Homo sapiens: one gene and its partners. The protein of the gene in region 6 purifies or fractionates together with the protein of the main gene of each other region. This does not show direct contact. Each region holds a gene or a part of one and is shown on either strand. Other genes may lie near its edges. The genes, in order: CARS1, SUCO, AKAP9, ANAPC2, FDFT1, PSTPIP1 and SCG5.

The links.
Region 1: the proteins of PSTPIP1 (region 6) and CARS1 purify together in Homo sapiens (affinity purification with mass spectrometry, with the first as the bait; one study listed by BioGRID). This does not show direct contact.
Region 2: the proteins of PSTPIP1 (region 6) and SUCO purify together in Homo sapiens (co-immunoprecipitation; one large-scale study listed by IntAct). This does not show direct contact.
Region 3: the proteins of PSTPIP1 (region 6) and AKAP9 purify together in Homo sapiens (co-immunoprecipitation; one large-scale study listed by IntAct). This does not show direct contact.
Region 4: the proteins of PSTPIP1 (region 6) and ANAPC2 purify together in Homo sapiens (co-immunoprecipitation; one large-scale study listed by IntAct). This does not show direct contact.
Region 5: the proteins of PSTPIP1 (region 6) and FDFT1 purify together in Homo sapiens (affinity purification with mass spectrometry; one large-scale study listed by BioGRID and IntAct). This does not show direct contact.
Region 7: the proteins of PSTPIP1 (region 6) and SCG5 purify together in Homo sapiens (co-immunoprecipitation; one large-scale study listed by IntAct). This does not show direct contact.

Annotation. Positions count from the first base shown.
Region 1 is NC_000011.10:3,029,924-3,033,423, forward strand, and holds part of CARS1 (cysteine--tRNA ligase, cytoplasmic), read right to left. Parts: intron 1,654-3,500; exon of another isoform or gene 1-1,653. UniProt on the Homo sapiens protein: Catalyzes the ATP-dependent ligation of cysteine to tRNA(Cys).
Region 2 is NC_000001.11:172,531,651-172,535,949, forward strand, and holds the start of SUCO (SUN domain-containing ossification factor isoform 1 precursor), read left to right. Parts: upstream 1-1,499; 5' UTR 1,500-1,526; coding exon of another isoform or gene 1,527-1,785; coding exon 1,786-1,847; intron 1,848-4,299. UniProt on the Homo sapiens protein: Required for bone modeling during late embryogenesis. Regulates type I collagen synthesis in osteoblasts during their postnatal maturation.
Region 3 is NC_000007.14:92,080,362-92,083,861, forward strand, and holds part of AKAP9 (A-kinase anchor protein 9), read left to right. Parts: intron 1-2,160; coding exon 2,161-2,301; intron 2,302-2,808; coding exon 2,809-3,294; intron 3,295-3,500. UniProt on the Homo sapiens protein: Scaffolding protein that assembles several protein kinases and phosphatases on the centrosome and Golgi apparatus. Required to maintain the integrity of the Golgi apparatus. Required for microtubule nucleation at the cis-side of the Golgi apparatus.
Region 4 is NC_000009.12:137,174,284-137,178,560, forward strand, and holds the end of ANAPC2 (anaphase-promoting complex subunit 2), read right to left. Parts: intron 3,834-4,277; coding exon of another isoform or gene 3,785-3,833; intron 3,499-3,784; exon of another isoform or gene 1,555-3,498; coding exon 1,425-1,554; exon of another isoform or gene 1,233-1,424; coding exon of another isoform or gene 1,190-1,232; coding exon 954-1,189; exon of another isoform or gene 872-953; coding exon 659-871; 3' UTR 501-658; downstream 1-500. UniProt on the Homo sapiens protein: Together with the RING-H2 protein ANAPC11, constitutes the catalytic component of the anaphase promoting complex/cyclosome (APC/C), a cell cycle-regulated E3 ubiquitin ligase that controls progression through mitosis and the G1 phase of the cell cycle.
Region 5 is NC_000008.11:11,805,741-11,809,240, forward strand, and holds part of FDFT1 (squalene synthase), read left to right. Parts: intron 1-2,202; exon of another isoform or gene 2,203-2,577; intron 2,578-2,727; exon of another isoform or gene 2,728-2,777; coding exon of another isoform or gene 2,778-3,053; coding exon 3,054-3,151; intron 3,152-3,400; exon of another isoform or gene 3,401-3,500. UniProt on the Homo sapiens protein: Catalyzes the condensation of 2 farnesyl pyrophosphate (FPP) moieties to form squalene. Proceeds in two distinct steps.
Region 6 is NC_000015.10:77,015,626-77,019,125, forward strand, and holds part of PSTPIP1 (proline-serine-threonine phosphatase-interacting protein 1), read left to right. Parts: intron 1-2,522; coding exon 2,523-2,623; intron 2,624-2,831; coding exon 2,832-2,906; intron 2,907-3,500. UniProt on the Homo sapiens protein: Involved in regulation of the actin cytoskeleton. May regulate WAS actin-bundling activity. Bridges the interaction between ABL1 and PTPN18 leading to ABL1 dephosphorylation.
Region 7 is NC_000015.10:32,648,210-32,651,709, forward strand, and holds part of SCG5 (neuroendocrine protein 7B2 isoform 1 precursor), read left to right. Parts: intron 1-3,500. UniProt on the Homo sapiens protein: Acts as a molecular chaperone for PCSK2/PC2, preventing its premature activation in the regulated secretory pathway.

The DNA of each region.
Region 1 (3,500 bases), on a different chromosome or scaffold from region 6:
CATTGACTGAAGATGCCATCCCCACTTGACACACCATGGAATGGGAGTAAAAACCACCAATCCCAGCAAAACATGGCACCTATGTGAACCAGGTCCTGACCACACACACTCTAGGCATGAGACACGCCCCAACTGCACTCATGTCAGAAAAGAGAAATGTCTACCCTCCGCCATCTTGGAGGGACCTAGAGTCTCAATGCACTGACGTGGACCCAGGACAGGGCGTGACACCAAGCAGATGGTCTGTGGCCTACTATGGGAAGGGGAGGCAAAGAACCAAGGCTGGAGAGAAAAAGTGTAGGAAAATGGCCTGGCAGACAGCAAGGACACAGGGTGGACAAAGCCACAACACAGACAGAGAAGGGGCACAGGGCCCACGTGGGCCAGGTTCCTGATGCAATCCCTGCCTACAGCTCCTGAATCAAACAGATGTGTTAAATGTATTGCAGGCCTGCAAGTGGCAAGGCACGTCTGCAGGAATGAGCACACCCTCCCCACCGCGGCAGGGCATCCAGTGGGCAGACAAGCACCAAAAGCAGGGTGTGCGCTCTGGGGAGCAAAGGCTGCCAAGTCTGCTGCCCGAAAAGCAAACACTGGGCCTGCCCCAAGTACAGGGAAACGCGCATCCTGGCCCTCAGGATCACCAAGGTCACGACCCAGCAAGAACCGACATCCTAATCGAGGTCACCAAACACCCAAGAACATGAGCAACTGTGAATGGGAGTCAGCAGAAACGACAAACAGATGGACGCTTCAGATGGAGGAGTTATCAGATACATAATAAAATCCAGTAAATATTACAGGCTTAAAGACATAAGGACGGACTCCCAGATGACAGGCAATAGCAAGCAGGGACAGGCCAGCAAAGCGGCCCAGCTGGATCTGAAAATAGAAGCAAACGGAACCTGCAGAGATGAAATCTATTAACAGGCGAAACAGTCTTATCCATCCTACTGAGTGACTGTTTCACTTCCTGTCTGAAGGAGAATTTGTGAACAGGAAGACAGAACTGAAGAAGTCATCCAAAATGAAACAGAGACAAGAAGGAAAATTTTATGAAAGACAGGTTAGGAGACACGGAGAAGGATGAGATGAAATGATGAGACTCACATCTAATTGGCAACCCAGAGGAGAGGAGAGAGGGAATCGAGTAAAGGTGATACTTGAAGACACATCTGAGAATTTCTCAAAACCCATGCAACAATCCAGCCCCGGGAAGCACACAAAATATCCAATAGGATAAGTAAAAACAAATCTCTTACAATGTCTTTGTGAAATAGCAGAAAACTGAAAAGAGAGAATACTTTTATAATGCGCCTGATAGAAAAGACATATTTACCAATCAAAGAAAAGTAATTTGAAGGGCAGCCGATGTTTTCAACAACAGCCAACAATGGAAGCCAGAAGACGGCAACCACCTTGAACAAACAGGGAAATATACACACTTCAAGATAGACAAAAGCTGCTTCCCACCAATACTTCTAAGATAATGTTTCTAAAACTTGCCTGATGATAGGGCTGGAATACTCAATGTTGCTGGTCAAGCATACAGATCAACAATCAAAATGCATAAATACAAAATGATAAGAGACTTCTGCTTTCCAGTTTCACATAAGTCAGGAGCTTGGAAGTTGCCACTCTACCTAACAACAGGTAAAAAGCTGAATAAACTGAAAAACCAACTCTTCTTAGATCCATAAGAGAAGTTAGGTCATAGGGCAAACCACTGCCCCCTAAACTGGAGAGACCAACAGGAGAAGACAGACAATCACAACTTACCAGAGCAGAGACTCATAAGCTGAAAATTCTGTGGGAACCAGTGTTGGGGGAGGAAAACCAGGACTGTAACAGAGATTGCTGCAGGCTTGGTGTAGGCAAGTCAGACAGTTGAAAACCCCAGGGACCCAGTCATAGGGGACCCCATACTTTTGTGAGTTTTACCTCTAGGAACCTGACCAGGCCTCACAGTGAATATTGGAGAAAAATCCCCTTGTGTTTCCAATAGCAAGAAGGGAAAGGAAGCATTCCAAAATATACCAGTGCACTCTGTTCTTTTCTTTCTCCTTCCTTCCTTCCCTCCCTCCCTCCCTCCCTCCCTCCCTCCCTCCCTCCCTCCCTCCCTCCCTCCCTCCCTCCCTCCTTCCTTCCTTCCTTCCTTCCTTCCTTCCTTGATGGAGTCTAGCTCTGTCACCAGGCTGGAGTGCAGTAGTGCAATCTCAGCTCACTGCAACCTCCGCCTCCCGGGTTCAAGCAATTCTCCTGCCTCAGCCTCCCGAGTAGAAGGGATTACAGTCACGTGACGCCACGCCCAGCTAATGTTTGCATTGTCAGTAGAGACGGGGTTTCACCATGTTGGCCGGGATGGTCTCAATCTCTTGACCTCATGATCTGCCCATCTCGGCCTCCCAAAGTGCTGGGAGTTCAGGCGTGAGCCACCGCGCCCGGCCAATAACTGGTAGGTCAGAAGTATAGGTAACAAACTACTACTTTCAACTGGCATCTGAATTGGGGACAGTCTTATGGGACTGAGCCCTTCAACCTGTCAGATCTGACGCTTCCTCCTGGCAAACTGTGTTGGAAATGAATTAAATTTTAGGACTCCCAGCTGATGCCTGCTAGAGAACTGACTGGTTGTCGGGGCAGAGGTGGGCTGGGTGAGGAAGAAATCCCTATGCATTTTGGTGATCAGAGGTGAAGTATTCTGTTTAAAAATTTTTTCCGATCTGAAATGGCTGCAACACTGTAGGATTCCAAGTATGTGACATTCTGGGAAAGGCAAAACTACGGAGACAGTAGAAAGACTAGCTGCTGTCAGGAGTTGGGGTGGGGAGGAAGGGATAATAGCTGGAGCACAGAGGATGTTCAGGGCAGTGAAACTATTCTGTGTGATACCGTAATGGTGGATACGAGATAGTATTTGTCCAAACCCATAGGATGTAACAATCCTGAGAGTGAACCCTAAAGTAAACCACGGACTCAGGGTAATGACGCTCAGAGCAGGTTCGCTGACTGTAAGAAACGTACCCCCTGGTGGGTGCGGATGCTGGGGGAGGTGACGGTGAGGTGGGTAGGGGATATATATAGCCTCTCAATTCTGATGTGAACCAGAATCTCCTCTAAAAAAAAACTTTTTTTTTTTCTAAAAAGTGAAAAAATAAGGAGAAACAGACAAATTCATCATCAGAGGGGGAGTTTTGTTTTGGTTCTTGTTTTTGTTTTTTTAAGAAACTGTATGAATAGGCTAAGCCAACAGGAAGAATTAGCAAAGACACACAAAATATTAACCACACGGCCAACAGGTATAGCTAAGTGGATGGCATGTGGAACTGTGCACTAGGGGATTAGACGGAATCTTCTCAAGCACAAGAGAACATTCAGAAACCAGCACACACAGGGGCCACAACACAAGTCTCTGTTCACAGATCCAGATTGGGACAGACCATACTCTCCAACCACTGGGTAATTAAGTTATAAGCGAATAACAATAAGTTAATATGAAA
Region 2 (4,299 bases), on a different chromosome or scaffold from region 6:
AATGTCAATTTATCCCTACCCTTTCATTGCCCCTACTTTCTTTTAAACTTGCATATTAATCATTTGATACTGTTTTTGGGTGAGATAAATACTTGCTTCCCGCAATAGGTGACAGATGAAAGGATTTTATTGTCATATACTAAGAGTGGCATCAGCAGATAAGTGGAACTGTACCTAATTACTGCCAGAAAAGGCAGTTCAGGGTGAACTCCTTTAAAACAAAAATTATCACCCTTTGTATAATTTCTCTAACATCAAATTGACTTATATCCAAGAATCACAGAGCGGATCAAATCATTCAGTTCTTTGGGACTATAATTAACATCCAATTCAACTTAGAAGGTTCATAAGGAAATTCCGCGGCTCAAAATTAGGCGTTAGGTGGGCATTTTACTGAGGGTTTTTTCCCTACGGCCACATGAACAATAAGTAACCCGTCCTTTAAACATTTTTCACACTAAACATTATGCCATGTTCCAAGGCACAGACCATTGCAGCCTCCGTCCCCTCAGCGGCGTAAACACTTGGAATGGGCATGCTGCCCCGTTACTTAGTATTGAGAAGTGGTCACTTTTTGCTCTTCTTAGGTGAGTGTAAGCGACTGCCTTCCCCACTTTAGGTGAACCCCAGGACTTGGAGCGTCTGTGGGTGCTCCTCTAATGGGGACAACTCCTCCCTTCCGACTCCATCGCAGAGAACCCAAAGTTCGAAACCAACAGAACGAAAAGCAACGAAGCACACTTAAAGTGAGGAACCCGGCAAGCGGCGAAATTCTTGCTGAAGAGAAGAAAAAGCGAAAGGTTTTCCGCTGCAACCAATCAGATGAGAGGATTCTTGGCACGCCCCTTTCTATCTACCAATCAACATCTAGCTCAATGGGGCAGTCCATTGCCACAGGGAAAGGGCTTGGTGCAGCTTCCCTCACAACACACACGTCATTCTAGGCCATTCCACGAACTGTGCTCAAAAGAGGAAAACAGTGCAACAGTTCCAAAGCTGATCAGTCTCGTGGTGAGCAGCGAAACTATAGACTTCTCTAACAAAACCATGGATTCTAGGAGGGACTGGGAAAGAGAAAAACGAATTCTGGAAGGCAAACTACAACTCCCAAAGGCCCTTGCGCGGACTCAGCGCGCGAGGGACGAAGGGCGGTCCACTGTAAGGGGAAATGCTGAGGATCACTGGGCTCCTCCCGGCTTTCTGAACGCAAGCCAGCAAGTGGGCGGGACCTGGGGCGGGCGGAGCGGCGAGAGCATCTGCTCCTGCGCTTTGTGGTCTCCTGCCTCCGGCTTCTCCGCCTGCGACGTCGAAGGGGGCGTGGCCTGCGCAGAGGCTGGTGGGGGTGCGGGCGCCGCGGGACTTGGGTGACGCGTCCCTTTCCAGCTCAGCGGTGTGTGAGGTGTCGCGGCCCCGCCGGCGATTGGCTGTTGAGAGGCGAGTACGCGGCGGCCGTTGGTCGCTGGCCTCACGGAGCAAGGCCCCCGGCGGGCGGGGAGGATATGGGGCGGCAGTGGCGGCTGCAGGAGGCGGGCGTGGACGAGCCGGTGGCTGCAGCGGCGGCGGTCCCCGGAGTCCTGTGAAGCGCCCCTGTCCGCGCCTCTGTGGGGCCCTCAGAGAGGGCTGCCAGGACGCGAGCCACTGAGGAGCCGCTCAGCCAGCGCCATAGCCCTTAGGACTATCGGTCACATTCTCGCGCTCCTGCTCCGGCTCCTCCATCTTGGCCTCGGCAGTGGCGGCTGCCGGGAGGATGTGCCGCCTTCTGGCAGGGGGAAGAAGGAGGAGAAGATGAAGAAGCACCGGCGGGCCTTGGCCCTGGTCTCCTGCCTCTTTCTGTGCTCTCTGGTCTGGTGAGTAGCCGCGACGACAAGGGAGTTCCCGTGAGGGGAGTAAATGGGAGGGAGCAGCCCAGGTCACACCCCCTGGTCATTTTGGCTTTTAGGGTCCGGGTTTCCAAGGCCCCCGTGGAAGGGACAAACCGATTACTTCTCGACTCTCCATCTGACTGGTCTGGTAGTGCTCTGTGCGGAGATTTTCATGGTGTATTTTGGAATTTACAGAGACTCAGTGGGAGAGAGAGAGGTGCCAAGGTAGAGGGAACCACCAAGTGCCTTTGTACTCAGTTCCTCTACCCCTTGGAGACGGTGCAGGGTTTGGGGTGGGTGTTCAGATTGATGGTAAGTAAGTTGCTCCGATTTGCCGCCAGTCTTTGCGTTCTTAGTGTGGTAAGGGGATAAAGCACGTCGGATGTGATGCGTTCCGGACGTGCGATTTTAAAACGTGAGTGGTCATGAAGGTAAGAGTAATGTATAAGCAGTAGTTCTCCTGGACATTTCTCGCACAGCGTTTGATCCCAAGTACACTCGGGCCGCTGTTTTTGGAAACTTGGGGGGCGTGTGTGTATGTGTGTTATGAAGCACTTTTTCAATTGGTTTGGTGGAGAGGGTGTCTTAGATGTAGTGTGTGTAGTAGTTTTTGGTAATGCCCCTTAGTGACGGGAAGGTAAATGCTGTATTTTCAAGGCGGGAAGAGTGCTTTGTCCCTAAAGCACTCCTTAAGTTTTACGGAGTTTCTGTTAATCCCAGGCACTTCTGGAGTTTTTTGAGGAGCAGAGAAAGCTTGTAAGTCGAGGGACTGCTGTCACCGTACTTGGAAAAGCCATTCTTTCCTCCCAGGGAATTTCTTCAAAGATGTGTGACAATTGATGACTGAAAAGATGCTTCTTCAGTCTAGGCGATTTGCTGTTTGTTATATTAAAATAGAAATTAAGTTTCCTGTTTTGCTTATTTCTGCAAAGCACCAACACTATTTTCATTTTTATGGATGCCTTATGGATTCCAGAAGCACTGAAATTGTAGAGTTGTTGCTCACATAAAATAATACATAAACAAGGGGAAGAGAAAACACTCGCCTGGCTGAGGGATTTTTATTGGAAGAATGATAGAAGTTTTTGAGAACAAAAACAATTGACTTATTACCTTTCATTCTGAATCCTTTTAATACCCGTCTCCTGTTTTTAATAAAATCCTCCCCTTTCTACTTACTGTGTTGGGTACGGAGAAGTGCCTGTAAGAGATAAATCCACTCACCTCATTTTAAATTTAAATTTGTAGATACTGAAGCTTGTATTCATTTCCATCTCTTTCTGGGGCTGCCTAGTTATATTTGTAGACTGTGTATTTTCTTTCCTCTTTCTTCTTGGTCTTGCCCATCTTTAAACCATGTTATTCATCATCAAAAGTTTCTGAAATGGCTAATAAGGAAAAGGTGAACACTTTCATTCAAGTTTAAAAACACACCAGTATCTCTGGCTTTTTTTAATTTTTTAATTGGATGGTGTAAACGAAATCAAGCAATAGAATGTGATTCTTACAATCATTTGTAAATTTAAGTTAACTCTGCTTCTATTTCTTTTGGGAATTTCTGGCTATCTTTTGATTAAGCTAACCCTCAGTATGTTTTCTCACCTTCAATCATTAGCTCTAGTGAAGAGCTAATGAATTTCCCTGTTAGGGAACAAATCGGTTGGCCTGGTATTGAAAGTAGTAGTAATAAACTTCTGTCAAGTTTTTTAACTCCTAGTGAGGAAAATGGATGTGGAGAGTTTAAGAGTGTGAACATTTTAAGAAACTTTAGCTTAAGAAACTATTGGGTTAGTATATTTTGAGATTTGTTTAGACTGCCAAATTTAGAGACATTTTAATTATTCTTTAGCAAAACGATTAAAAGGCATTAAAATAGGACATTAAGGCTTAAAGGGTTTTTTAAAGGGTGATGATGATGAATGAGATTGGGGAAGAGGAGTGGTACCTGGTGCTGATTGGCAAAGGGTATGTTTTTTCTTTGAAGCCTCTGCTTTTGTGCCAAGTTGGAATTAATGGCACTTAATGGATTTCTAACTTTTGCTGCAATCTGGTGTGGTATTTCTTTTCCCAACAACCTCATTCCCTTTAACAGAAATGGCTACCAACAAGTCCTAGGGTTAGATAAAACGTTTGCAAGAGTTGATGAGTGCCTTTTAGTAGCCACTTTTGTCTCTTTTGTTATTCACAAATTGTCTCAAAATTTTGTGATCCGTTTCTGTTTTGTACATTGAGTGCTGTATGTCTGTTCTACAGTATTCTAGTTTCTGAGGTTTCCCCTCTCATGCTACCAATATTACTGTGTTATGTTTACTATCATAATTTTGTAGATCTTGATTATGTCTCCCCTCTGCTTTTGTCTTGTAGCCTTGAGTACTAACCTTAGATTATGTTTACAGAAAAACCATTTCATCTATGTCATTATTAATTTTTGTTGCTG
Region 3 (3,500 bases), on a different chromosome or scaffold from region 6:
GCCGAGGCGGGTGGATCTTGAGGTCAGGAGATCGAGACCATCCTGTCTAACACGGTGAAACCCCGTCTCTACTAAAAATACAAAAAATTATCCGGGCGTGGTGGTGGGTGCCTGTAGTCCCAGCTACTCGGGAGGCTGAGGCAGGAGAATGCTGTGAACCCGGGAGGCAGAGCTTGCAGTGAGCCAAGATCGCGCCACTGCACACTCCAACCTGGGTGACAGAGCGAGACTCCATCTCAAAAAAAAAAAAGAAGAAGAAAAACTAGACAAACTAAATTTACGAGAGTTTATTTGAACAAAAAAGGATTCACGTATTGGGTAGCATTCAGAACCAGAGGAGTTTCACAAATCTCTTTTGTGCAACAGTGGCCAGTGAATATTTATAGACAGAACTACCAAATAAAATACAGAAATAGCTTGATTAGTTACAGTTAGGTGTTTGCCTTATTTGGACCCAGTCTGCTCAGTTGACTGCTTGTCATTAGCTAAGAGTTGGCTGTTTATTATACTCCTAAGATACGTTTTCAGTTTGCTTACGTACTCCTAAGTTAGATTGTAGTTCCTTACATAGGAACTCAAGATACAGAGACAGCCTCAGGCCAAATTTAACTTAACACTGTGTAGTCATATTATTATCACTAAAATAATGGATACAGACTGTATTTTATGGTCTTTAAATATGATATTTATTTCATTAACATCATCATTAAATGGAGCAGTCAGAAGAAACTAAGAAACATTAATTTTAGCAAATGTTCTCTAGGATTTATGGGGATTTTTTTCTTAATTTGCTTCTAATATGCATGTTATGTTATCATTCCTTTTAAGTAATAATAAGTATGAAAATATGTTAGGATTGACAAAGAATGCAGACTTTACAGAAAGAAATCTATTATTTAATAGCATCTACTGAATTAATTAATGTGTGGGTGACATATTTTACAATTTTTTTTTTTTCTTGAGACAGAGTCTCGCTCTGTCGCCCAGGCTGGAGTTCAGTGGTGTGATCTCAGCTCACTGCAGCCTCCACCTCCTGGGTTTCCAGCAATTCTCCTGCCTCGGCCTCCCAGGCGGCTGGGATTACAGACACGCACCACCACACCCGGCTAATTTATATATATATATATATATATATATTTTTTTTTTTTTAGTAGAGACGAGGTTTCTCCATGTTAGCCAAGCTGGTCTCAAACTCCTGACCTCAAGTGATCCGCCTGCCTTGGCCTCCCAAAGTGCTAGGATTACAGGTGTTAGCCACTGCGCCTGGCCAGCTTTTACAAATTTTATACCTGATAATAGATTTCATCTGTTTTAAGTAAAAATGCGTAGTTGACCTCTGTAAGTTTACTTATGAGAAGATCTGAAATCGCAGTTATTTCTTAGCATATGACAGATAGGACAAGAGCTTTTTTTTCCTCCAAATTCTCACCTTATAAATTTATAACTTTGAGTAGCTGAACTTCAGTCTTCTCCAAACACCAGAAGATTAACTGATAAATCACAATTCTATAATTATATATTTTGCAAAGAATAATAATTCCCTGGCTTTTTCCTCCTTCATTGGAACTAAGTTACTTAAGTTATAGATAATTAAAATAGTAATATAACTTTCTTTTTTTCCTGGACACAGAGTCTTGCTTTGTTGCCCAGGCTGAAGTTTAGTGGCGCAGTCTTGGCTCATTGCAACCTCTCCCTCCTGAGCAGCTGGGACTACAGGTGTGCACCACAACACCTGGCTAATTTTTGTATTTTTTGTAGAGACAGGGTTTCGCCACGTTGCCCAGACTGGCCTCAAACTCCTGGCCTCAAATGATCTACCTGTCTCAGCCTCTCAAAGTGCTGGGATTACAGGCGTGAGCCACCGTGCCTGGCCTAAAATAGTAATGTAACTTTCCATTTTAGGATGTATATGAATAACATTACTTACCTTTTATTCCCAGAAAATCATTCTTTTCTCAAGAAGAAAATCATTGTCTCAAGAATATAAGATGATGGTTCTGAAAAAGCTTCTCTGTTTTTGGAAAGAGCATTGATTTGTTCCAACTCCTTATATCTGTAGGCAGTCATTCCTTGGATGGTTTTATTAGAATGTATAAGAGCCTTGAATTTAGCTATATTTTTTTTAAATTATGTGTTTCTTGTGTTTCCGCTGTCATTCAGACAACTACTGAGCTATTTCATAGCAATGAAGAAAGTGGATTTTTTAATGAACTCGAGGCTCTTAGAGCTGAATCAGTGGCTACCAAAGCAGAACTTGCCAGTTATAAAGAAAAGGCTGAAAAACTTCAAGAAGAGCTTTTGGTAAGATAAGTAACATAGCTCCTAATTCACTCATTTCTACCTATCTTAATTACGTTTCAAAGTATATACTCTTTTATAACAAATGAGCTCCATAACTTAAAAGCTAGATAAAAAGTATTTTGTGGATTTGATGAAAACTTTCATTGTTATAAATTTCTTTACCAACATCTTCTTGCTTGGTTTTCCTGGAAATCTTTCTTAGGAGGATACTTTTTATTTCCATTCTGTTAATGAAGGAGTAGAAAGTTGTTAAAGAGAACTGTATATCCCATGAGAACCAAAAATAGAAGCTAATAAAATTATTTCATTTCTATAGTAATCTATGACCATACGTACATACAAATATATATATGTAAACTGTGAGCGTTTCTGAAATGTTTTTCCTACTACTCTGAGGAAAATGAACGTATAATCATGAATTACATTCCTCCCACACCCTTTAAATTCTACATTTAATATGGGAAGATTTTAACTGAATGCCCTACTGTTCTATTCATTACGTTTTAGGTAAAAGAAACAAATATGACATCTCTTCAGAAAGACTTAAGCCAAGTTAGGGATCACCTCGCAGAGGCAAAAGAGAAATTGTCCATTTTAGAAAAAGAAGATGAGACTGAGGTACAAGAAAGCAAAAAGGCCTGCATGTTTGAGCCACTTCCTATAAAACTGAGTAAGAGCATTGCATCCCAGACAGATGGGACTCTGAAGATCAGTAGCAGCAATCAGACTCCACAAATTCTTGTTAAAAATGCAGGAATACAAATTAATTTACAGAGTGAATGTTCCTCAGAAGAAGTTACTGAAATAATCAGTCAGTTTACTGAAAAAATTGAGAAGATGCAAGAACTACATGCTGCTGAAATTTTGGACATGGAATCCAGACATATTTCAGAAACTGAAACCTTAAAGAGGGAACACTATGTTGCCGTTCAGTTACTGAAAGAGGAATGTGGTACCTTGAAGGCAGTGATACAGTGTCTGAGAAGTAAAGAGGTATTTGGTTTTTATAATATGTGTTTTTCAACATTGTGTGGTTTTTTAAAAAAAAAAAATCAGTTTAATTCATTTTGTAGATGACAAACCAAAATGCAACTCATTAAGGCACTTGATCTTTCTAAGTAGGTGTATTATCAAGGCAAGTTTTAAACTCCTAGTACAATATTCCTTTTTTTTCTTTTGTTATACTTTAAGTTCTGGGA
Region 4 (4,277 bases), on a different chromosome or scaffold from region 6:
TGCCCAGTCCCTCTGGCCACCAGGGCACAGCCTTCGGCAGAGCCTCACTGCCAGAGACGAGGCGTGTTGGCCTAGAGGTCATTCGCCAGCCTCAGCAATTCCAACCGAACCCGCACAACGTCCCAACCTCGCCCGAGACCTCCTGGCCGAGCGTGTGGAGGTGGGCACAGGCTGAGCAGAGGGTGACCCCAGGGCTCCTTCTAAAGGCCAGAGGCGCAGGAATGGAGCTGGAGGTCTGGCGGGTAGCAAGCACTAAGCCCTAGGACGTGGCTGCCTGAGCCGTGGCCCGGGCGTGACGTGGACCTTCACGTGCCGCTCCCTGAGCACCCTGGGTCGGGGGCGGCCCGGGATTCTCTCAGGAGGCTACATTCCCAGTGCAGATGTGTAGGCCTAGGTGGCCCCTCACCTGCTGCTGAGGAGCAGGCCCTGCCAGGCTGAGAGAGAGGCCCAGGCTAGAGGAGGATCCTGGGGGGCCCCACAAAGCCACCAGGACAGAAAAGGATGATCTGACTTGCTTTAATCTGCACACTGCGGGGGTGGGGGTGGGCATGCTCCTCAGCAGTGCATTCTGGGACACGGGCGGGCGGGGGCTGGCACGGGAGGACGAGAGCACCTGCAGGGCAGCGCCTGGCGGGCGGGCGGGCGGGCGGGCGATGTGTCAGCTGCAGTTCTTGGGCAGGCGGTAGACGCCGGCCGAGTAGACGAGCTGCTGGTCCCGCACCTTCTTCTGCAGGTAGCCCTGCAGCTCCTGCAGGTCAATCTCGGCCAGTGCAGGCCCAGTCACCACAAACATGCGGAGCATGTTGTAGATACGATCCAGTGAGAGGCTCTCCAGGTTGGTCAGCATGGCCTGGATGTACGTCCAGAAGAGCTGCGGACACAGGCCAGCCCCCGTCAGGCACCTGCAGGCCTCGCCCCCGCCCCCTGGCCCCCCGTGGGGCCTGCACGCGCACCAGCAGCTCCTCCTCCTTCTGGTCGGCCTGGGAGGCCATGCCGGAGTCGCTCTCGTCGTCACTGTCAATGAGCACCATGTTGTCCCGGTCCTGAGGCCGCTCCTCCTCAATGACAGAGAAGGTGCCGGGGGGCTCCTCACGCAGCACACCCTGCTGCAGCCACACGGACATCCGCCGCCGCAGCAGCGCCACGGGCATCTTCACCGCCTTGCTCAGTTCCTCCAGGGTCCAGCTGGCTGCGTGCAGAGTCACCGGGACGCTGGGCAGCCTGGGCACGGGCTGCACCTCCCCTGCCTCCCGTCAGCCGAGAGGTCGGGGGGCTCCCGGGCCACCCTGCCTTGCCCGTGGGAAAGGGAAGGGTGCCGCCTGCTGGCGCAGCTGCCCCAAACCACACCCTCACTGGGGAACAGCCCCTCACCCACAGCTGGGCCGTGTGGCCGGGGCAGGCCAGCTAGGGGCTGGTGGGCTCACCTTGGTCCTGAAAATACAGCAAGATCACCGCCTGTACTGGGGTGACCGCCACAGACAGCGTGCGGTCGGCCAGCTCCACGTCCATGGTCACCAGGCCCAGGGTGTGCTTCCAACTGAGGGTCCGCATGGCCTAAGGAGGGCCAGGGTCAGCACGGGCAGCTCGGCTGCAGGGCGCTCAGGCCCGTGGGCTCTGCCACCTGGTACCAGTGAGAAAGGGGCTCCCAGAGCCACCTGCCCCACCCCACCCTGGCAGGCAGGTGAGCAGCGAGAGCACAGGACTGGGTGGGGTCCCCACCTGCTCAGCCACCATGGAAGGGCAATGGGGCCAGCATCATAAGGTGTGTCCCGAAAAGGCTACAGGGGCCTCCTGACCCCCAGTGCTTGGAAATGTGGCCATATTTGCAAACAGGGTTGATGCAGATGTAACTGAGGTGCATCCTAACCCAACTGACTGGGGTCCTTCTAAGAAAAGGAAAGATAGGAAGACACAGGCAGGCGGGGAGGGGGCCACACGAAGACAGAGACCACCTGGAGCAACGCGGCCACAAGCCAAGAAACACCAAGGGCTGTGGCAAACACCAGAAGCTGGGGGGCAACGGAGGTCTCTAAGAGGGTTCAGAGGGAACGGGGCTGCCAGTACTTTCATCTTGGACTTCCAGCCTCCAAAACTAAGACAATCTATTTCTGTTTTTTAAGCCACCCAGTTTGTGACACTTTGTTACAGCAGCCACAGTAAACGAACAGATTTTGGTACCAGGAAGGGCCAGGAGGGGTGCTGCCAAAACCTAACACCAAGAACTGTGGCAGCAGCTTTGGAAGTGGGTGATGGGGAGAGGCTGGAAGAACTGGTGAGGCCTGCACGACTGCTGGTAGAAAGGCATGAAGACAAGCCTGGAAATGGCTGGAAGAGGAGAGCTGCCGCCGTCTTGGAGAATGCACACAGCATCACAGACTGGATGTCGGCAGCAATGCCGACCCAACAGGTGCTTCCAGTGAGGTCTCAGATGGAAATGACCGTGCTACTGGGAACCGGAGGAGGCAGCAGAGAGCTTGGCTGGCTGCTGCTCTGCTGTTGGGTGCGAAGTGGGACCTGCAGCTGATGAGCCTGGACATCAAGCTGAGATTTCCAAGCAGTGTGGAAGGTGCCACCTGGCTTCTCCTTGCTACTTATAGCAGAATGCAAGAGGGAAACAATCAGTGAGGCAGGGACCATTAAGCAAAAAGGCACCAGCCCTTGGGGATCTGAAAAATACTCTATCCAGGCAGCTCTGAGACGTGGCCAAGGGTGTGGCTGGACCAGGGTTTGCTAGACATGAGGTGTGACCTGTGTATCCAACTAACCATCTCAGCAGCAGACAGGGACAGGTGGGGCCTCCGGGAAAGGGCTGCGGACCCGCCTGTCTGAAGGCTTCGGCACTGGTGAGCTGCATAAGCCAACAAGGTGTGAGAATTTTACACCCGCAGAAGTGCTGCCAGGCTGGAGTGAAAGGAAGGCAGGCTCCAAGAGCAGAGCCGCCGAGGCCAAGGCTGACGGAGCAGGGGGCCAAAGAGGATTCGCAGGCCTGGAAGTCAAGTGGAATTTCGGCTGCTGGGTTTGGACTCGCTGTCCTTTTTCCTCCCAGTTTTCCCTTTTGGGGTGGGAATGTGTATGCTTGTCTTACGGCTGAACTTTTGAAACAGATCATCTGTTGGCTGATTTCACGGCGTCCCAGCTGGAGGAATGGCGCGCACTCCAGCCTCACCTGTACCTTGTTTAGATCTATTTACGTAGAGGAATGGCGCACACTCCAGCCTCACCTGGACCTCGTTAAGATGCATTTACAGGCTGAGATGTGTGTGGAACTTTGTGTGGATGGTAGTTAGATGAGATTTTGGACTTGGAGTTGATGCTGAAATGGTGAAGACTTTTGGGGACACTGGGGCTGTCACTTGCACGTGGGAGGGGCCCACCATGGGGCAAATTGTCATGCACTGAATTGTGCCCCTCGAAAAATGACACATGAACCCCTAACTCCCGGTGCCTCTGATGAGATCTTATTTGGAAATACGGTCATTAAAGATATAATTAAGATGACGTCACCCTGGAATAGAGAGAGTGTTCTTCTAAGAGGGAGATAGGAACAGAGACACGGGGGAACATCACGGGCGACGCGGCAGAGACCAGAGCGAGGCACCCACAGGCCCCGGAGCTCCTGGAGCCCCCAGAAGCTGGAAGAGGGGAGGAAGCAGCCTCCCCTAGAGCCTTCGGAGGGCCCTGCTGACCCTGACTTTAGACTTCTGACTTCTGTAAAATGATATGTTTCTTTTAAGCCCGCTGGTTTGTGGTACTTTGTTCTGGTAGCACTGGGGCACTGACACACCTGCTCTGTGGGCCAAGGGCTCCTGAGTCCTTCCAGGATCCGGCAGCTTCTAATGGAAACAAACCCCTCTTTATGGACAGAAAATGGAAGTGGAGTCAGTGGCTTGCTAGGTCCTAGTTCTGGCTCCAAGGCCATGACCTCCACAAACGCCGCCACTGGTCAGCCTGCCGCAGGACACATGCAAGGGCTCAGGGGTGACGCTGTGGGCTGCATGGCCAGCCACGTGTCCAACAAGGTCGCTCGGCCAGGAGCTCTGCTGGTGGGACCTCTCAGCACAGCCCCGGGGCCTCCCTGAGCCACTCCTGTGTCCCACTGAAGTTAAGACAAAGGGCACTAGAGTGTGGCTGTCCCAGCACATCAGGCCTGAGCAACAGGAAGTGGCTGAGTCATGCCTGGGACCCAAGGCAGGACCCTGGAGGGAGGCCATTGGGGCCTTGCCTGGAAGCAACGCTGGAGAGCCTGAGGCAGCCAGAGGGGCAGGGGGAAAGGGACC
Region 5 (3,500 bases), on a different chromosome or scaffold from region 6:
TGTTTTGCTAAAGAAATAATTATGAGGTGCTACTTCACACTGACTAGGGTTGTATATGCATTTTATTGCCTATTTTCTAAAACACTAAAAATGCTAAATTCTGCCCCAGGTCTTGCCACAGATGTTTCAGTGGACTATGGGCCTGTGAGACCTTAAAGGGTTGATTGAGTAAGGATCACAGGTGATGTCCGCATTGTGCTTGGCATGGAGTTAAGTGCTTGATAAATGGTGGTTATCAATCTGATTATGTAAATTTATGTAAATTCAGTTCTCAAGTTTGTGGTTTTTTTCCCCTCCTGGAGAAATCTATTCTATTTTAAAGTGAGGAAGGCTCCGTGGAGGGCTGGTAGCTGGTAGCTGTTCACTTGTGGAACTTTCAGCCTGAGGCTGGAGCCCCTTCCTGGGAGTCTGGTCTTGTCGTCTTCCTGACCACCCCCACACCCTTCCTCTAAATTCCCTCCATCCCTGTTTTTCTCCCGCTTGCGAGCTTTTGGGAGTGTGCTGAATCTCAGACTGCAATAGATAAACCCAAGAGGGACAGGCACCAGTAGCCTGAGCTTGCTTTCTCCCCTGGCTCATGGGAATCAAGCAGTAGAAATTTTTAGTGAGTGTTGTTTTCCATAGTATGCTTACTAGTTGTGTCTTCCTGTTTTGTTCTTGGTGATTTGAAGAAACCTGTTTACAAGGTAAGGGACTGAAACAAATAGGTGACAGGAAAAAGAGCAGCAGGGGTACGAGCTGGAGGAGTAAGTGGCTTGGCTTGCTCTCTTTCAGAATGGAGGGCTGTATGGAAAGGAGGGGTAGTGTTCTTGAAGAGTGTTGGGGTTTAAATCTAGGGGGACCGTGTCTTGGCATTGATTGAAACTCCTGGCTTAACATCACCCCGAAACTGTTAGTTGGACTGAACATGACATTTGGCAGTGCAGTTAAAAACACTTCCTGCTGTAGCCTGGTAATGGTCAGGCTATGTGAAGAGCTGCTCTGGAGCTCAGTCCAGAGCGGGTATTCTGTTTCTTTCACTCTGAAATCCTGCCTCTCGATATTTTGAGAAGGAAGGAGTTGGTGAATTGTTTTAAAATCCTCGATGAATGTCTTCATTTATTCATGACACCACTTCTGAATATATTTATGTGCCAGACGCTGAAGTTTACTAATATTATGGTGCCCAGTAAATACTTGTTTTTACTAATATTTTTTATGGCAATAAAATGACTTTTTCAGGATTATGTGATTTAAAAGATTGACCCTTTTGGCAAAATACGTATTCATGATAGGAAATATATACAAATAAAAACAACATAGTTCACTTAAACCTCCCACCAGAGCCCAGGGTTCACTGTTACCATTCTGAAGTGACTATGGAATTTCCTAGAAGTGGATATGCCATATTTTTTTAACCACTCCTATTGGATATTTGTTTTTTATTTTTTTGAGATGGGGTCCCACTCTGCAGTGTACAATATCATAGTTCACTGTAACGTGTATCTCCTGGGCTCAAGCGATCCTCCCACCTCAGCCTCCTGAGTAGCTAGTCTTCAGTAGCTAGACTATAGGTGGGCGCCACCACACCTGGCTTTTTAAAAAATTTTTTAAAAACTTTTTTATGAACACGAGGTCTCACTATGTTGCCCAGGCTGCCCTCAAATTCCTGGGCTCAAGTGATTCTCCCACCTTGGCCTTCCGAAGTGCAGGGATTATAGGCGTGCGCCACTGCACCCGGCCCTGTTGGATAAATGATTCCAGTCTCTCCCAAAAAGAACTGTTGTAAGACTGTGGGGTGAGGGGAGGGAAGGGACAAATAGGAACCCGCCGTATTTTCCACTCCCTGTGGGCCTAAAACTGCTCTAAAAAATAGTCCATGAAAAAATACATAGTACAAACAGCAACTCTTTCTGATATGCTTGCATTTAAAATCAGGCTTTTTCTCCCTTTTGGAAAAACACAGTCCTTGTTTGCTTTAGGGAAGAGTAAAGGTCAGTGCGCTGCATTGCATTAATTTCGAAGGGAAAGATGAGAAGACATCTTGAAAGGAATGGCTGGCTTTCTAGAGAATAGTAGAGGCTTAATAGGTGTCATAGAAAAACCAGGGTTGGACAGTGGTAGTAAAACGGCAAAACAGATTTTATTCAGAAAAACTACTGCAGTAAGAGGAGAGAGACCTCGGTACAGAACTGCTCCACTGCGAATACAAAGAAAAGTAGGAATTGATGGCGGGGGAGCCGGATGTCAGTGGATGGAAAATTATTACGAGGAAACACAGGGGTGTGCATTCTTGCTGAAGGCAGGCCAGAGTTATCAGACATCACCTGAGGGATGGAGGGGGATGTGGAACCTAATCGGCTGTCTAGGGTGATCAGATACTGAAGTTGGGGGATTCTGGTCAAATCAATTTAGCAGGATTCTTGGTAAAACTGGGCGATGCAAAGACAGATGCGTTGAGTACAAAGTCCAGGCCTTATTGGGAAGAGGATTTCAGCGGAGCCCGAGTAGAGTTTGGTCTAGGGAGACTCTGTCACTGGGAGGACGAGCGAGCCGCTCGGAAGTGCGCTGGGTTCCCTTAGCGGCCAGTGGGTTCTGGTGAGAAGGGCAACAGCGGGAGGAGGCGCCGGTGCGGAGCGGGAGGCCGGGGGCGGGGCTGCGGGGCTGCGGGGCGGGCCCGTTGTGGGTCGGCCCAGCGCGTATTCGAGTAGAGGGCGAGCCCGTCCCGCCCCTCGTCGGGCGCTTCCCAGATCTGCTTGAGTCTATGGAGGAAAAACTCCGCGGGGTCCGCGATTCCCATGGCCGCAGCCGCCTGCGGCACCAAGGCCATGGCCCTCTTCAAGCGCACCTTGGTGCTGAGTCCCGCCGCGGCGCCCAGGGGCCCGGGCGCAGGCACCGCCCCGCGGGGCTGCTGCTTGCCTCCTGCCGCCTGGCCCTGCAAGGACTGGCCTCGGGGAGAGGGCGGCAGGCTGTGGAGCCGCCTGCCCCAGTCCCACTCCCACTCCCACTCCCACTCCCACTCCCACTCCTGCTCCTCGACGTCTCCCACCGCCGTGTGTGTTGTCTGCCCGCAGGACTCGCTCAGCAGCAGCCTGAAAACTTGCTACAAGTATCTCAATCAGACCAGTCGCAGTTTCGCAGCTGTTATCCAGGCGCTGGATGGGGAAATGCGGTGAGTGATGGAGGCAGCGCCTCTGGCTTGGAGGAAAGCTTGTCCGGGACCTTTGAGTGTGTTGGAAGCTACCTTTTGATATAGCGCTCAGCGTTGCAGCCTCGTTGCTGTGGCTTATCCAGAACATAGCCCGGCCCTACGTGTTTACTTTAGAAAGCCCTTCCAGGCTCTTTGCCATCTAGTAGAGTCCCTGCGGGCCCAGCCTTTCAGAGAAGAGGGGGGAGGGGGTGATGTTTATTAACTTTTTTTAGTCTTGGCAGCTGAACCTGCCTGTGAGCAGGTCGTGTATTTCTCGGCTTCCCTTATCCAACTTTGCATTTCTATTTCTAGCATATTGGGTTGATTCTTT
Region 6 (3,500 bases):
TTACAGGATGATTGGTTCATTCATTTCCTAAACACATCCTGAGCCTGACTGTCCCAGCTCAGAGCACGGAGTCAGACCCATGCCCTCGAGGAAGTGGCAGGGGTGGGGGTGAAGGAGGAGGGCGCGGGCTGGGGGAAGGGGTGCAGGGCTGGGAGGCATCGTGAGCAGCCCCTGGAGAGTCAGGCACTTCCTCGGAACATCCCAGTCCTTGTGACAGTAGCTCACTCGGCCACAGCCCCTGCCAGCAGCCCAAAGCTCTGAGCGGGGGACTGGGCGGGATCCTGGAGCCTGCAGCCTCTGGGGACTTGAGCACGGCGGTCACAGCCTGCAGGGCCTCTCGCTGCTTTCTGACTCCTCCCGAATGGCCAGCGTAGGTTCGGTTTGCTTCTCTTTCCACTCTGGGGGCCTCCATAAGGACAGGAGAAGGGTTCCCTTGGCGTCAGGGCTGGGTGTGGGGCTGGGCTCCAGGTGGCCTCTCCAGAGGTATCAGGAAGGAATGACAGGTCCCCTGAGAGTCCGGATTCTTGTCCTGACTCTGCAGCGTCAAGCAAGCCATTTCCTTCTCTGGCCTCAGTTTCCTGAGGAGTGAGGGAAGCCGCACAAGGTGGTTCCCAGTTCTCAGGGCGGGGGGGTCTGTGGCATTCTGACATGAATGCTGGTGTCCCTCCGGGCAGGTGCAGGAGGCTGAGGCCCCAGATTTGTTTTTCTTCCCAGCCGCCAGGAGCTCTGACCTGAGGGTCTGGAGTGAGGGCAGAGGCTGAGGGGTGGGAAGGGGAGGGCTGCTGGCTGCAAGCAGCTGCCCACCAAAACCACAGAAATGGAAGCCTGGTCCAAGCTAACCCAGTGATGTCAACCTGGACATGGGGGTGGGCGCCTGCCTCTGAGGCTGGGGGGACAGCTTCTGGCCTTCCAGGCTAGACACGCTGCTTGTTGCTCTGTGGACAGCTGAGCCTGGACCAGGCCCTCCTCAGGAATTTCTAGGGATGCTTATGGAGGGGGTAGGAGCTTGGGGTCCTAAGTGTCCTACAGGCCAGGAGAGTCCACCTGCTGAGGGTGGGCTGGAGTTTGTGGGGAGGGGGGGCACTGTTGGGGCAATTTATGCCATTGCTACCCCTACTTCAGATTCTTCTTAGACCTTGGAGAATACCTTCTCCTTCCAGCACCTGACTCAAATGCCTCTTCCTGCAGAGAGCTCTCCTGGATTTCGACTCCATCCCTGTTCCCCTCACACCCCTAAGGTGGCATTTGAGGGGAGACATGGGTCAGGGGAAGGAGTACCAGGCTTTACCTGAGTCATGTGTGTGCGACCCTGGAGTGTGCGTGACCTTGGAGACTGTAATGTGTGTGGTCAGGGGAGCTGGGACTTCTTCCTCCAGTCTCTGAGGCTTTAGGGGTCCTCAGGGATAGAAAGGAAGACAGACTAGGTGCGGAATGTCAGGCCTGCCTTGGTGCAGTTGGTGACAAAAATCCTGTCTCCCCAGCACCTCTCAAGCTCCCCTGGAGTAAGCCTGCGTGCAGTGCCTGGGAGAGCTCAGGGGGTTGTGGCGGGGATCCTGGCCCCGGGACCCACTCCCCAAGCCTGGGAATGTCCTGGGAGACCTCTGTTCCTTCATAGTCCTTAAAGACTACCTCCCTCCCCCAACTTCTCACACCCAGCTTCCCACACCAGCAGCTCAGACACACACCTGGAATCCACTGCACAGTGAGAAAGGAGAATTGGGTTGGCCAGGAACAACAGCCAGGGCAAGCAGGGCAAGTGCCAGGCAGCAGAGGGTAGCTGTCCCTGGAGAGTTCTCTGAGGCTCCCCACCCCACCCCAGTCCAGAGGTGAATGTAGGGTGTGCTTGCGCATGCTCTGACCTGGACTGAAGTCACCCTCCATGCCCACCTCCCTGGATCTCCGTGAGGGGGGGTTTCCTGAGCCCACAGAGAGCCCAGCGCAGCATCTGGCACATGGCTGGTGCCCAAGAAACCGCAATTGCTGTGATGGTCATGGAGACTGCACAGTGCTGAGGTGAAGGGCAGGGACCCCAGCCAGACAGCCTGGGGTTCAAGGCCAGGCCAGCCACTTTCCAGCTGGGCCGCTCTGGATACGATCACATGTCACCCTCCTACACCTCGGTTTCCCCACTTAGCTGAGATAGGGATATTGGAAGGGTGGCACTGTGAGTGAGTGAATTTCAGGCCTGGCTGTCATCAGGGGGACTTAAGGGTGGCTCTTCCCATCTGCTATCTCATGCTGATGTGTGTCCTGTCCTGTGAGCTCTCCAGATGCCAGGCCCGGCACCCCCGGCCCTGTCAGCTGGGTGGGGCTCACTTATGTACCTGTCACCTCTGCAGATGTGAGGGGACCTCCTGTGTGCCTGTGTAAAGCCAGGTCTGGAGTCCCAAGAGCTTGCCCTGAGCAGGGGAGATGGAGGCAGGAGGGAGGCTGTTCCCAGAGATGGTGGGAGGGTCCCCACAGGGCTGTGCTCAGTGTCGCCTGGTCGTGGCCCTCATGTGTCCTTCTGTCCTGTGTCACAGTGCAGGGACTTCACAGCCCACACGGGCTACGAGGTGCTGCTGCAGCGGCTTCTGGATGGCAGGAAGATGTGCAAAGACATGGAGGAGCTACTGAGGCAGAGGTGAGCTGCTGGGCAGGCCATGGGGAGCGCAGGCAGGAAGCAGGTGGCTTCCGCTCGGCTCCTGGGACAGTGGACGAGGCCCCCATCCCAGCCAAACTCTGTCAGAACACGCCCTGCTTTAAAAAACTCTTCTGTGTTCCCTCAAACCTGGGCCTCCCCCAGAGGTGGCAAGTCACTGATGATCTTTCAAATGCCCTTTTTTTTGCAGGGCCCAGGCGGAGGAGCGGTACGGGAAGGAGCTGGTGCAGATCGCACGGAAGGCAGGTGGCCAGACGGAGATCAAGTAAGATCTCCCGGGCCCTGGGGCTCACTCCTCTCCTCTGCTGGCAGTTTCTGGGCCTTTAGATGAGGTTTAGGTCTTCCTGGCATGGGGGAGGCTGGGCAGAACCAGGGTAGGTCTGGATTGCTCCTTGGTGCCTGGTTATTGGGCATTCAGGGTGAGGCCAGGTTCTGTGAGGGAGGAAGCCCGAGGGTCTGAGTTCTGGAAAGGGTCTGGGCAGGGGAGACAGGAGGCCATCCATCCTCAGTCATTTGCAGCGCAGTCTGCACCAGCCTGGGTGGCCTCCACTGAAGTCCTGAGGGGCAGGTGACAGGCGTCTCCACTGGTGGCTCAAGTCCCCTGCAGCACTGGCTCAGCATGGGCTTCAAGGATGGAGATGTAGCCAGAGACAGGGGTCCAGGAGGGGACACACCTGGGTTCCGGTGTCAGCTCCTCACCCCCCAGCTGTCTGACCATGGGCTGGCTGCTGACACACTCTGTGGCTCCGTTTCCTCATCAGTGATGGGAAAGTAACGCAGCCCTCCTCAAAGGAAGAAGTGGGCCCATGGGCTTAGCTGAGGCCTGGTTAGAGGGCAGGCCGTCAGGGAAGTGGCTCTG
Region 7 (3,500 bases), about 44 Mb from region 6:
CTCAATTTTAAGTAATTTATTTCATTTTTATCTCTAAAATCCATGTGCAATTTCCTGTCTGCTTCTCTCTAGCTCTACTCCAAACACCCTGGTCCAAGATACCATCATGTCTGGCATGGAGTTTTGAAATCGCCTCCTAACTCATCTTCCTGCTTCTATTCTTGATCCCTTTTCGATTGTTCTTCACAGGAAGAACAGGAGTTAAACTTTTTTCAGGAGTTAAACTTGAAAAGTTTAAACCATATTAGTGTCATCTCCGTAGTTACAATTCCATTGGTGGCTTCCCATCGTACCCTGAATAAAAATAACCCTTCTTGCCATGACCTACGAGGATCCACAGCTCCAGTCAATCGTACTCCCTACTTTGTTCCACGCATTCTGGCCCTGAGTCACACCGGCCTCTTCCCACCTCAAGGCTATCAACACATTGGATGGGATCAACAATGGGAGGCTATCAACCTCCCATTCCTTGTGTAGCGAGTTTCAAAGTCACCCACTCAGAGAGGGCTGCCTGACTGCCCTGTCTGAGTAGCACCCCCCTACATTCTCTGTTGCAGTCTCCTTTTTTTTTTTTAAAAAAAAAACAGAGTCTCACTCTGTCCCCCAGGCTGGAGTGCAATGGTGCGATCTCGGCTCACTGCAAGCTCCGCCTCCCGGGTTCTCGCCATTCTCCTGCCTCAGCCTCCCCAGTAGCTGGGACTACAGGCGCCCGCCACCACGCCCGGCTAATTTTTTGTGTTTTTAGTAGAGACGGGGTTTCACCGTGTTAGCCTCCTGACCTCGTGATCCTCCCGCCTTGGCCTCCCAAAGTGCTGGGATTACAGGCGTGAGCCGCCATGTCCAGCCTTTTTTTTTAAAGCTCCATAGCATTTTTTGTCATTTATAATCATTGTTTGTTTTCTTGCTTATTGTTTATCTCTCCACTGGAATGTAAGCTCCATGAGGCTATATCTGCTTATTAACTGCATTATATTCCAGGCACATAGTAAGCATTCAGTAAATATTTGAGGAATTAATGTATAATATCAGGGGGAAATAAATATACCTAATGGCAATAAGTATGTAAATACTGTTTTACATCTGGATCTGTCAAGACTTTCTGCCTTTTAGTTCAAGGAAAATATTCCATTTCTATTCTGTTTTTAAAAATCTCTGCCTAGAGGTTCTTGCCATGAGCTTAGTGATAATGTGGTGAGCAAAAATGTCTGTTATCTAGAATTGACTATGACTGTGATCACCATGGTGCAAGGTTTGTGCCCTTTGTACAGCGCCTACCAAGGAGCTAGAAGGACTTTTTGCAGTCCTGGGACTAAACCAGCAGAGGGCCAACTAGACTAGAAGTTTATTTTGGAAGATTCCTGAACCCTGGTAGCCAGCCTCCTGGTCGTTAATAGCTTTAAGTGGTCGCTGGGGTAGAAGCATTTGCCAAAACATCCAGAGAGGATTGGGGGTTATGTTTAACTTCTCCGTGGGCGCCTTAAAAACAGCTTGGTAAGGAGCATCTTTCAAATGTGTAAATTCTTAGTCCAAAGCAAATAAAAACACAAAGACAAACAGGGACCTACTTGGCATTACATGAAAAAAAAGAGTGTGTATGTTTATGGCAGAGAACTCGGGTTAACCCGTAGCCGTACTATTTTCTAGCTATGTGTAATCCTGGCAACTTTCTAAGCCTAGTTCTCTCAAATAAAATCGGCCCAAATAAAATGGGCTTGTCTGGTTCGAGTTGGTGTTTGAAAAATAAAAATAAAATAAAATGGGGTTTCCAGCCCACTCTTACATGCAATCAGTGGGTGCCATTAGTAACTGAATTGCAGGCCTTCCTCCTCTCACTTTGTGGATTATCAACAACATGTTTTCAGTCTTTAATGGCTTACCCCAATCTTATTTATTTATTTATTTTTTGAGACGGAGTCTTGCTCTTTCGCCCAGGCTGGAGTGCAGTGGCGGGATCTCAGCTCACTGCAAGCTCTGCCCTCCCAGGTTCATGCCATTCTCCTGCCTCAGCCTCGCGAGTAGCTGGGACTACAGGTGCCCGCCACCACACCTGGCTAATTTTTTTTTCGTATTTTTAGTAGAGACGGGGTTTCACCATGTTAGCCAGGATGGTCTCGATCTCCTGACCTCGTGATCCGCCCATCTCGGCCTCCCAAAGTGCTGGGATTACAGGCGTGAGCCACCACGCCCGGCGCCCCAGTCTTATTTTTGATTACTCATCAGTTAGCAATACAGTTCAGATATGCTTCAGTGCACCATATATTTCAGCAGTAACCATCTTCTCCCAAGCCCACGGTTGCTCACTGGTCTCCAAGACATAGCTAAATGGCTACTGTTGTATTATCCCCAGAAACAAATAAAGCCACCAACTGTCCAGGGGACTGATTCGGAGAACCATGTGCTGTGAGATGGGAGCTCTTGGGAGTTAGAACTGGTTGTGCCAGCTGACACTGATGATGGCCTTGGATGGCCTTGGATGAATCCAACCAGAAAATGTGCTTTCGTTTTCAGAACATTAACAGCTTCAGGTAAAAGATAGGCTGCTCAGTGCCAGCTGTTCATTTTCCCCACAGTTCTAGGCCACCAGCTATCTAGCACTGTGATAACACCAGTTATCTAGCCATTAAGATAGAAATGTATAAACATTAGCATTTGATGGCTCTGAGTAATTTTAAATCCATATTGCCAAACATTAAAATACCCACGTTCTGCCGGGCGCGATGGCTCACGCCTGTAATCCCAGCACTTTGGGAGGCCGAGGCGGGCGGATCACCTGAGGTCAGAAGTTCGAGACCAGCCTGGCTAACATGGTGAAACCCCGTTTCTACTAAAAATACAAAAAATTAGCTGGGCATGGTGGCACGTGCCTGTAATCCCAGCTACTCGGGAGGCTGAGGCAGGAGAATCGCTTGAACCCTAAAGGCAGAGATTGCAGTGAGCCAAGATCGCCCATTGCACTCCAGCGTGGGCAACAAGAGCGAAACTCTGTCTCAGAAAAATAAAATAAAATAAAATACGTTCTTTTTTATAACACTGACTGTTGGACTTCAAATTTTTCACTTAGAAATAGAGACCCAAGGTTATTTTCTTAATAAATATCAAGTGGAGAAAGAGTCCTGTGGATGATAGGCTACTTGAAGAGGCAGATCCTAGGAGCCTCTACTCTGCCAAGCTTTGGCCTTGGTAAAGGAGCTGCAGTGCCTCCGCTTTGCCACAGGGTGGCAACAGTTGCTTCCCATTTGAGGATGGCGGGGTGAAGCAAACCTTGAACTGTAGGGGACACTCCGTTTCTGGCTAGTCTCTCTCTGCAGTTGGAGAAAGCAGTGCAGCTGACTCTTATGTGTCTTGACTAAAATCTGTTTCTAGGTTATCCTCACCCTGGAGGAACCAATGAGAACATTGGGCTTGTAGGCCATCTATGAATGGACTGGGACCGCCCAATGGGCCCATGCCTTTGGGGTTGCATTTTGTCCACCTTGAACTTCAATCCTTAAAGTCTCTGG